Regions from separate parts of the Homo sapiens genome. Here region 1 is linked to region 2. Evidence: fine-mapped expression QTL. Tissue or cell type: monocytes. Region 2 holds a variant in brackets; the other region holds the start of a gene. All regions are shown on one strand. Distances are between the middles of the regions.

Region 1 (5,000 bases), 140 kb before region 2:
TGTTAAGTTTTTTCCCAGCACCAGTGAGGCATGGTGGGAGGAGCCTACTCGCTCACAGCCCCAGCTACTCAGGAGAGGCTGAGGTAGGAGAATTGTCTGAGGTCTGGAGTTTAAGACCAGTCTGGGCAACTTAGCGAGACCTCATTTTTTTTTTATTTGAGACGGAGTGTCACTCTGTCGCCCAGGCTGGAGTGCGGTGGCGTGATCTTGGCTCACTGCAACCTCCCCCACCCTGAGGTCCAAGCGATTCTCCTGCCTCAGCCTCCCGAGTAGCTGGGATTACAGGCGTGCGCCACCACCCCCAGCTAATTTTTGTATTTTTAGTAGAGATGGGGTTTCACCATCTTGGCCAGGCTGGTGTTGAACTCCTGACCTTGTGATCCACCTGCCTCGGCCTCCCAAAGTGCTGGGGTTACAGGTGTGAGCCACTGCGCCAGGCCAAGACCTCATTTTTGTTTTTGAGACAGAGTCACACTCTGTTGCCCACGCTGGAGTGCAGTGGCATGATCTCGGCTCACTGCAAGCTCTGCCTCCCGGGTTCACGCCATTCTCCTGCCTCAGCCTCCCGAGTAGCTGGGACTACAGGCGCCTGCCACTACACCCAGCTAATTTTTTGTATTTTTTAGTAGAGACGGGGTTTCACCGTGTTAGCCAGGAAGGTCTCCATCTCCTGACCTCGTGATCTGCCCGCCTCGGCCTCCCAAAGTGCTGGGATTACAGGCGTGAACCACCACACCCAGCCCAGCCTGCTGTTTTTTAAAGTTTCCTGGTCTGTGATGCTTTGTTACAGCAGCTAGAGCTAAGACACCCATCTTATCCCCTTCACCCCACTAGAAACTGCCTCCCAGACTGCAGCCTAGCTTCCTAGTGCAGACCAAAAACTGGCTAGCACCAAATGCAGTTACCAGAAAAACCCCCATCTCTCAACCAACCCACTAGACCGGCTCAGAAAGCCCAGGTTCCAAACTGGTCAGACCTGGGGGTTGCAGAAATGACAAACTTGGAGGGACCAGGGTGTGGCCCAGAGCTTTGACCTCCCCTGCTTCCTGTTTCTGATGCCTGGCACCTTTGGCCACAGGAAACCCCTCCCGGCTTTGGCGGGACCGCTTCACGCAGGTGTGGCAGAGCTGGGAGACGGGAAACACACCTGAGCCAGAGCCCGAGGCCTCCTTGCCAGCACACCTGGCAGCCCCCAACCTCCCAGGACCTGGTCACAGTCAATGCAGAGCCCCCACACTGACCACCATGCAGGGGGCCCCACAGGCTCCTGCCACCCACCCACCCTGCCAGGCCCCCTCCTCGGACCCCACAGCATCAGGGCCTCCGGCGAGGCTGGCCAGCATCCCCACCAGTCACACTGCAAGGGCGGCGGCAGCAAGCGGGGAGCAGAGACACACAGCGCAGTGAGCCTGGCGGCCTGCACGGCCTCTTCAGGGACCTGAAAGCTAGGAGGCTTCCATCTGGAGGCTACCGAGGCTGCGGGAGTCCCCGCAGGGAGCTTAGCACCTCCACAAGTTCCTGGTTGTTTCTGGGACGCTAGTGCCCAGACAGCTCCCACTCCATCTTTCTTGTAAGAGTTTTGACAAAGACACACGGCAGCTTCATGATAGCTCAGTTAAAAAGACCTTTTAAGTTTGGGCTGCGCACAGCGGGGGACGATCTGGCGTCCACTTCGCCCATATGGGAACCCCGCTCTGCTCCAATTGAAGGGCAAAGGCACCTACAGAAGAGCGAAGCCCCAGGTTTCAGCGGGGCCGGAGGGGACAACGGGGGTCCGGGGCCTCCCGCTCGGCCTCCCCCAGCACCCCCAGAGACCCGCAGGCCTGGGCCGCCTTCCTCCACTCTCACCTCGGCCGGCTCCACCGCAGGCGGCAGGCGGGGGTGGCTGGGGCCCTCCCGACCCGCGAGGACCCTGGGACTCGAGGTCCGACCCGCGCCTTCCCGCGAGGCCGCCGCTGACCCTCCCCGCCCCAGCCCTGGGGGGCTCCGCTCCTCGGCAGCGCCGCTCCCGGCAGCGGTGGCAGGGGACGCGCGGGGCCTGCTCCCGCCCCAAACCTGACCCGGGCCTGACCCCCACGACCTGCTCCCCCGGCTCCAAAACCTGACCCGGGCCTGGCCCCCCCAACGACCTGCCACCCCGGCCCCCAAACCTGACCCGGGCCCGGCCCCCAACGACCCTGGTCTACCAGCCCCAAACCCTGAATCTGACCCTGGCCTGACCCCCACGACCTGCTCCCCCGGCCCCAAAACCTGAACCTGATCCGGGCCTGACCCCCACGACCTGCTACCCCGGCCCCAAAACCTGACCCGGGCCTGACCCCCCCCGCCCCCGGCCCCCACCCCCCGACTCGGGCTCGCTCCCCCCGCCCCCCACAGTCACCCCGCGGCCCTGACCCGGGCCCGCCCCCCGCTCGGTGCTGGGCCCCGTCCTCACGCACGCGCCGTCCGCGCCGCGCGGCGTACCGAGGCGAGGCAGCGGCGCTCCTCAGCCGGCCTCCATGCGGCGCGGGCCCTCAACGGACGGGGCGGGCTGGGGCCGCGGGGCGGGGCGGGGCGGACGGGCCGAGGGCGCCGGCGGCCGCGTGGCATGCCGGGAAGTGTAGTCCCACGCGCCTCCTGCTTGGCCCCGGCCCGCAACTTCGGACTACACTTCCCAGGGGGTAGCGCGCGGGGCCCCCGCCCCCCCCCCCCCCCCCGGCGCTCCCGGGTCCTAAGGAACATCGGCGCGCACTCAGGAGGGAGGGTTCGAGTCCCGCCGCGGTCACGGCCTTGCGAGGCGCGCCCACGTTCTCTGGTCGCAGCTCCCAAGCTGTGAAATGGGGACAATGCTCGCACGGCGTCCACAGGATGGTTTTCAGTCGAATGATATTGAAATGTAACTGTTCTGTGAGCCGTCAGTCCCGCACGAAAGGGACAGCCGATAGTGGGACGCGAGGAGCCGAGAACACGGGATCAGGGAACGCGCTGCCATGGCCTCGGCCTGGCCCCCTTCCCTCTGGGGATCGGCCTAGTCCGTCCTCCGGGGGTCGGCCCAGAGCGGTCCCCGACCCGGGACTCATGCCTCAGCGGGACCTCGGCCTTGCCGCAGGTTGGGGCACCCCGGGAAGGTCGGGCCCCAGGGGCCCCGCGGCCAGCCTAGCGGACGGAGAACCGGGACCAGGTGGGAGTCTTAGGGCGGGCCGACCCCCGGCCTCACGGACCCGGACGCTCAGTCACTTCCGATCGTCCGGAGGCCTCCAGGGGGACCCGGCTGGCCGCAGCCACGCCGACGCTAGACTCTCGCTGTGCGTGTTCGGCCCCGAGGGCAGGGGGAGACGGCCAGGCCCCACCCGCCGCGCCCGTCCTGCCCGGGCGCCCGGCCCCCTCGCTGTACCCAGCCTCTACCGGGGCGGCCGGGACCCGGCGGCCAAGTTGCTGCGCGCTGCGGGCACCGGCGCGGACGGGGGCCCGGGCGCTTCGCCGCCGCATGCAGACGACTCGCTGCCCGCAAGCTGCTGCGCCGTCCGCCTGCCCCGCTCTCCTGCAATGGTCCGGCCGCGCATCCCGGGCCCACGACTTCCTTCCTCCTCCACGACCCCGGGTTCTTGGCTGACCTGGCGCTGGCGCTGGGCTTAGTGCAGGCGTGGGCCTGGCAATGGTTTGCCTGCGGGCTGCATGCGCGGACCCCACAGCCAGCTCCCCGAAGCTCTGCGCCCACCTCTACGGCCCTGCCCCAGCCAAAGGATCAGGTTCTTGGAGCGGGGCCTGCCCTGGGGCCAGGACTCCAGTCACCGGGGGAGGGCTGCTGTGTCTTCCTGCCAGGCACTGATGAGTTAGTTGGGGAAAGGGGCCAGGTGGGGCCAGCTGGGGAACCATTTAGAAGAGGGAGGAGGGCGCACCTCTCTACTCGAGTGCCCTAGGACTAGCTCCTCTCTGGAGCCACGGGGAGGACCTCAGTGAGGGCTGCCCCACGCAGGAACCTTCAGCGAGCCTGGAAGGCTGACCCAGCAGGCCTGGGGTTGGGGGAGTCCAACGCAGCGCCCAGGCTTGGTCTGGGTCTGCCTGAGGCCGTCCACCAGGACTCCGTGCTGGGGAGCCTGCTTCCTTCCAGGCTCCAGGAAGGGAGGCCCCGGCCCCAGCCCCAGGTTCTGAGGAGCTGCCCCGGCTCGGGTGGCCTGCAGGGGTCCCCTCAGGTCCCTGGTCCTGAGTCTGCAGGTGGTCCTCCCGGGGTGGGGCGGATGGGTGAAAATGCCTGTCCACACGGCAGCAGGCTGGGCTGGCTGCCCACTGAGCATTCTTACACAAGAGGCCCCGCCCCCTCCTACAGCTTCCTGGTCCCCAAATGGCCAGGCCTGGCCTTAGAGAGGCCTCTGTCCTCCTTGGTGAAGGACACTCACTTTGGGCCCTAGGGCCTCTGGTTCACATCCTCTCCATTGATTCTCATTGTTCGCTGCCTTTGTGGTCATTCTGCCTTTCCGACCATCTCGGCCACATCCTCACAGGAGGGCAGCGGGTGGCAGTCGCCCCGGCTCCACCTCACCCATTTCTCAGTGCTGGGCTGGTGTGGAGGGAAGATCCCTGGCCTGGGGGCTGGAGGCCTGGGTTCTCAGTCTTGGCCATCTGGGATGGGTGCAAGGTCCTCCTGGAGCCCCTCCTTCTCCATGAGAGGGACGGTTCTATCCACCTGCCAGGCCTGCTTATGCTCAGGGAGGGGGAGGGGCAGGAGGGGGCACTATTTCAAACCAACGCTGGCCCCCGGGCTGCAGAACGACCCTCTGACTCACCTGGGCAAGGTGGCCAGTTGGGGAGGGGAGAGTGTCCGAGATCCCAGCCCCCGGTGGGCAGCAGACAGTGGAGAAGCAGAACTGCCCTCCGATCCGGCTGGGGTCCCCTGCAGGGCTGCACTAGGCTGTGAGGGGCGAGAAGCAGAAAAGGGGGAGATTGAGTCCTCAGGGAGCGTGCTGGGGAAACTGAGGCAGGACCTCAGCCGCAGGCCCTGGGCCACCACCCACATCTCAGGC
Region 2 (5,253 bases):
TGTGTCTGTTATCTTCATTCATTTAGTACGTTCCTTTGGTTCAATTTTCCTTTCCTCTCCTTTCATGTGCTCTCCCGGACTGGTTACTTTTTAAATCCCCCTTTCCCCTCTCTTACCTGTTGGAAATCTTACGCTGTTTTTATTCCTTTGGTGGTTTCCTTAGGAATTGTATTCTGCCCATCCATTTTTCTAAAGTTACTCAGTTTGACCACAGCTAAGCAGGGTGTTGGGGGTGGCAGAGTGTCTTGTGGAGTCGGAGGGTGCCAGCCCTCTTGCGGACTGTCCAGCTCCCCCACCGTTCTCCCCAAAGCCTCGGGTGATAGGCTCATTCACGTGCACAGCCACGTGGGCGGGTGACAGGCCTCAGACTGATTATCGGAGTAGACAGCGGCCCAGAGCGGTGCTGGGACCAACCAGATGTCTCGTGTGGGTGCTGGGACTCAGACTCGGGGTTCCCAGAGAGGTGCTGGGACCGACCGGATGTCTCGTATGGGTGCTGGGACTCAGACTCAGGGTTCCCAGCTACAGCTGTAATTGTGCCGCTTCGTCCGCTGTGTGCCTGGGTGTGGGCATGGTCTTCTTTGAGCAGATGTCTTCCTGCCAGAGCACAGTTTGTCTCCTTCTGCTTTGAAAACTCCTCTTACAGAAAAATAATCAACTTATTTTTCAATTCCTTGACTTAAAATACTATACAAACAGCCAACAAACGTGAAAAAGCGCTCAGCATCACTAATTCTCAGGGAAATGCGAATTAAAACCACAATGTGATACCACCTTCCTCCTGCAAGAATGGCCATAATGAAAGAGTGAAAAAGTAATAGAGGTCCGCGTGGAAGTGGTGAACAGGGAACACTTTTACGCTGCTGGTGGGAATATAAACTAGTGCAACCACTGTGGAAAACAGCGTGGACATTCCTTAAAGGACTAAAAGTAGATCTACCATTTGATCCAGCAACCGTACTCCTGGGCATCTACCCAGATGATAAGAAGTCATGATACAAAAAAGATACTTGCTCACGCATGTTTGCAGCAGCTCAGTTCACAACTGCAAAAATATGGAACCAATCAAAATGCCCATCAACCAACGAGCGGATAAAGAAACTGTGGTGTATCTGCACCACGGAATACTGCTCAGCCATAAGAAGGAACCAGATAATGTCTTTTGCAGCAACCTGGATGGAGCTGAAGGCCATTCTTCCAAGCGAAGTAACTCAGGAATGGAAAACCAAATATCGCTTGTTCTCATAAGAGGGAGCTAAGCTATGAGGATGCAAAGGCATAAGAATGATAAGATAGAGTTTGGAGACTTGGGGGAAGATTGGGAGGGGAGAGAGGGATAAAAGATTACATATTGGGGCTGGGCGCGGTGGCTCACGCCTGTAATCCCAGCACTGTGGGAGGCCAAGGTGGGCAGATCGCCTGAGGTCAGGAGTTCAAGACCAGCCTGGCCAACATGATGAAACCCCATCTCTACTAAAAAATACAAACATTAGCCAGGCCTGGTGGTGTAGCAGGATGAGCCACAGACAAAACTCCTCAGACACCGGATTAAAGAAGGAAGAGGTTTTCATTCGGCCGGGAGTGTCAGCAGACTCGCGTCTTAAGAACTGAGCTCCCAGAAAAGGAAATTCTTGGCCTTTTTAAAGGCTTACAACTTTAAGGGGTCCACGTGAAAGGGTCGTGATACATCAAGTAAGCATGGGAAACGTGACTGGGGGCTGCATGCATCAGCTAACAGAACAGAAAGTTTTACAATGCTTTTTTCATGCAGTGTCTGGAATTTACAGATAACACAAGTAGTTTAGGTCAGGGGTTGATGTTATTATTATTACTTTTTTTAACTCCTAGGGCTGGGTGGTGGTGCCAAGGTTGTCTGGCTATTTATCTTACTTTTCTTTTCCCCCAACTTTTTGCTCTTTCTCTCCTCCTGTCTTGTGAACTAGGCAAGGTGGGGGAGGAGGGCAGCAGGAGTAGTAGTGGTCTCCTTCCTTAGTGGCAGGCACCTGTAATCCCAGCTACTTGGGAGGCTGAGGCAGGAGAATTGCTTGAACCTGGAAGACAGGTTGCAGTGAGCTGAGATTGCCCCACTGCACTCCGGCCTGGATGACAGAGTGAGATTCCATCTCAAAAAAAAAAAAAA[AG/G]GACATATTGGGTGATGGGTGCCCCCAAATCTCAGAAACCAGCACTAACAAGCTTATCCATGCAACCAAAATCTGCCTATTCCCCAAAAATGATTGAAATAAAATAAAATATCCTCTTGCCATTTTAGGAGAAGAAGATTTTCTCTATCTACGGACACTACCCGGTGGTCCGGGCCGCTCTGCGAAGGAAGGGCTGGGTAGAGAAGAAGTTCCACTTTTTGCCCAAGGTCATTCCGGATGTCGAGGATGAAGGCGCCCGGGTCAATGGTAGCGTATCGGAGGCGCACGTCTCAGCTCAGGGCGTGTGCGTCTGTCACGGGCAGGAGGAGTCGGCGCCGGCCTGAGTGTGGTGCCTGCCCCTCGGCCCTGGTGTGCGTGATGGGGTATCTCCGACCCCAGGTCTCCATCACCCTCCTGGCCTCCCTGCCCCAGGCGGTCGTGCCAGGCAAACCCTTTCAAGCCCCCAGCCCTGCTCCCTTCTCAGAGTCCCTGTGGCCTCCACCCAGGCCTCCTCCTGCCCGGGCGGTTTCTGTCATCCTCTCTCCGCCCGGCCTCAGCTGTCCCTCCTCCAGCCCCAGGTCCCTGAAGTCCACTCCTCAGGCCCCCGTGGTGCTGGCTGCTCCTCGCTGACATCTGCACAGCTGTGTCTGCATCCTCTTGGCCCCATTGAGACCCGGATCAAATGTCCCCCTCCTCCTCCACCCCTGCCTGTGGCCCCTCAGCCTCTATCACTCCCACCCCCATCCCGGGCTGTCTCCACCATTCCACACCTGGGGACACCTGGGCCTCCAGGAATCCCGGGCCCCCAAGCCCTGTCACAGCCCTGGGGAGGTGCTGTGCGGTGGACGCTCATTGGATGTATGGGGGCTGCCAGAATGCCCCAAGCCTGACTCAGGACCCACAGAGGCTCCTGCTCCACCAGGGGAAGGCCCCATCTGGAGCCAGGTTTCTGGAAGTAAAGTCGCTGTCCTGCCTGCGGTTGTGGTAACGGACCCGGTGCGGGAAGTCTGGCTGAGGCTTCATGTTCAGGCCTCCCCTGTGTTTTGTTGGCAGATGATACATGTGCCAAAGTCAAAGAAAATCAAGAAATGGCTTTGGAGAAAACAGACAACATCCACGACGTGATGGTACGTCCCCTGCATGCGTCATGGTCAGCTGCGGCCTCTCCAAAGCTTCTCACACCGTCGCCCTGCTCCGTGCCCACTCTCCCATGTCCTGGGGGGATGGCAGCCCGGCGAGGGCAAAGCCCCAGTCACAGCAGGGCCCCTTGACCGGGCAGCAGGGCCTGGCTGCCCCCAGGGGTGGGGCGAGCCCTTCGGTGCTGGATGAGCCGCTGTGTAGTGGGTGGACCCGGTGCTCCCAGCTCCCCTCCACCCACACTGGGCTGGCCTGCTGTGCGCATGTGGAAGCTGAGGGCACTGAGGCCCGGCAGGGCTCGGACAGCCCGGCTGGTGTGTTGCAGGATGGGGCCTGGCCAGCGAGTGAGCTCCTGTCTCCAGCAACACAGTAGTATGTGCCTCCCCACCTCCCCAGCCCAGCCTAGTCCCTCCGGGGCTCCCAACACTCCACCATAAAGAGGGCGAAAGAGAAACCAGGGTGGGAGGCGGCATTTGCAGTACTTAAAATTTAAAAGATCAAATGTCCAGAATATATGAAGAACTCACAAATCAGTAATGAAAAGACAAATAGAAAAATGGGCCCAGATTTGATGAGGCGCCTCCCACATGGCCAGTGAGCTCGCCCTTCCAGGTTCCTGGAGTCAGTGCCATTCCTACAGAGCATCCTGGGTGCTCCAGCGGCTCCCACAGGTCCGTGGGCAGTGGTGTGGACACATCAGAACATTCCTCACTGTTCTGGAGGCTGGAGTCTGGGTTGGGGCAGTGTGGCTGGGTGCTGTGAGAGTGTCCTGCTTCATGGACGGCTGGCTTCTCTCTGCGTCCTCACCCAGGGGCGAGGGTTTTTCTGGGGCCTCTTTTATAAGGGTGCTAGCCCATCATAAGGGGCTCAGGCTCATGACCTAATCCTAAAGCCTCCTATGCCATCGCCCTGGGGATGAGGATTGTAGCACATGCATTCCAGAGAGACAGAAACATTCTGCTCATTGTGCCTGGAGGACAGACAGAAGCAGGTGGCAGTTACCGGGTGGGGGCGGCTGGGGGACTTCGGCTCTGTTGACGATGCTGTTTCTCACCCCAGTACCCAGTGGTTAGTGATTAGTATGCTATTATTTACACACACACACACACACACACACACACACTTTTTTGGGGGGGTGTTTTCAGATGGAGTCTCACTCTGTTGCCCAGGCTGGGGTACAATGGTGCAATCTCGGCTCACTGCAACCTCTGCCTCCTGGGTTCAAGTGATTCTCCTGCCTCAGCCTCCGGAGTAGTTGGGATTACAGGCGCCCGCCACCACGCCCGGCTAATTTTTGTATTTTTAGTAGAGACGAGTTTCACCATGTTGGTCAGGCTGGTCTTGAACTCCTGGCCTCAGGTGATCTGCCTGCCTTGGCCTCCCAAAGTGTTGGGATTACAGGCGTGAGCCACTGCACCCAGCCTGGTTGGAATTTTGACTTAACACATGCCATTGTTATAAACAGAAAAGCACCAACAACAGGCCCCCAGCTCCACGACCAACCCCTCTATCAGCAGGGGAGGAGCGGGAGGCCAGTGCCTGGGGCTCAGGGAGGGGTGTGCAGGGCCCATGGTACAGGCCTGGGGGCTTCGGTCCTGGGGACTGTAAGCTCTGGGTTATGAAGTGTCGTGTCACCTCGGCAAGTGGCACGTCCCCACACCCACGTAGACCCCATGCGGACGGCTCAGACCCCACCTGCAGCCCCACATCGGGGTGGCCCCCCAGAGCCCGAGGCCCCTCTGTGGAAACCGTATGTGGTCCTGGTTGCGCCCCACATCCCATGTGCAGGAGGCCCACAAGGAGCACTACTGCCTGCAGCAGAGCCCGGCTGGGATCCTCACGCTGCACGCCATTTGTCCTCTGATGGTTGCCTCACTCCATCCCATCCTGGCTGGTGTGAACCTTGAATGCTGGGCATCAATAAAGACTTTTTTCTTGCCAGTCTAGGTTGGTAAAAAATGAGATGCCGTACCTC

Evidence for each region. PIP is the estimated chance that this variant, and not a neighbour inherited with it, causes the effect.
Region 1: it holds the start of TRABD, and the variant in region 2 is fine-mapped to the expression of TRABD in monocytes (Quach 2016, PIP 0.95).

The regions. Positions count from the first base shown.
Region 1 is chr22:50,183,440-50,188,439 of GRCh38, reverse strand. It overlaps TRABD (TraB domain containing), which reads right to left and starts at 2,527. Exons shown (of 10, transcript NM_001320485.2): 1 at 2,464-2,527. RefSeq lists silencers at 789-838, 1,779-2,088, 2,355-2,724, 2,995-3,094, 3,285-3,354 and an enhancer at 4,240-4,815.
Region 2 is chr22:50,047,264-50,052,516 of GRCh38, reverse strand. TTLL8 (tubulin tyrosine ligase like 8) reads left to right here. Exons shown (of 14, transcript NM_001350317.3): 4 at 2,270-2,408; 5 at 3,195-3,268; 6 at 5,221-5,253. Among named protein-coding and RNA genes, the nearest start is that of TTLL8, 8.4 kb to the left of the region's middle. The variant AG/G (reference allele first, on the strand shown) is at 2,141.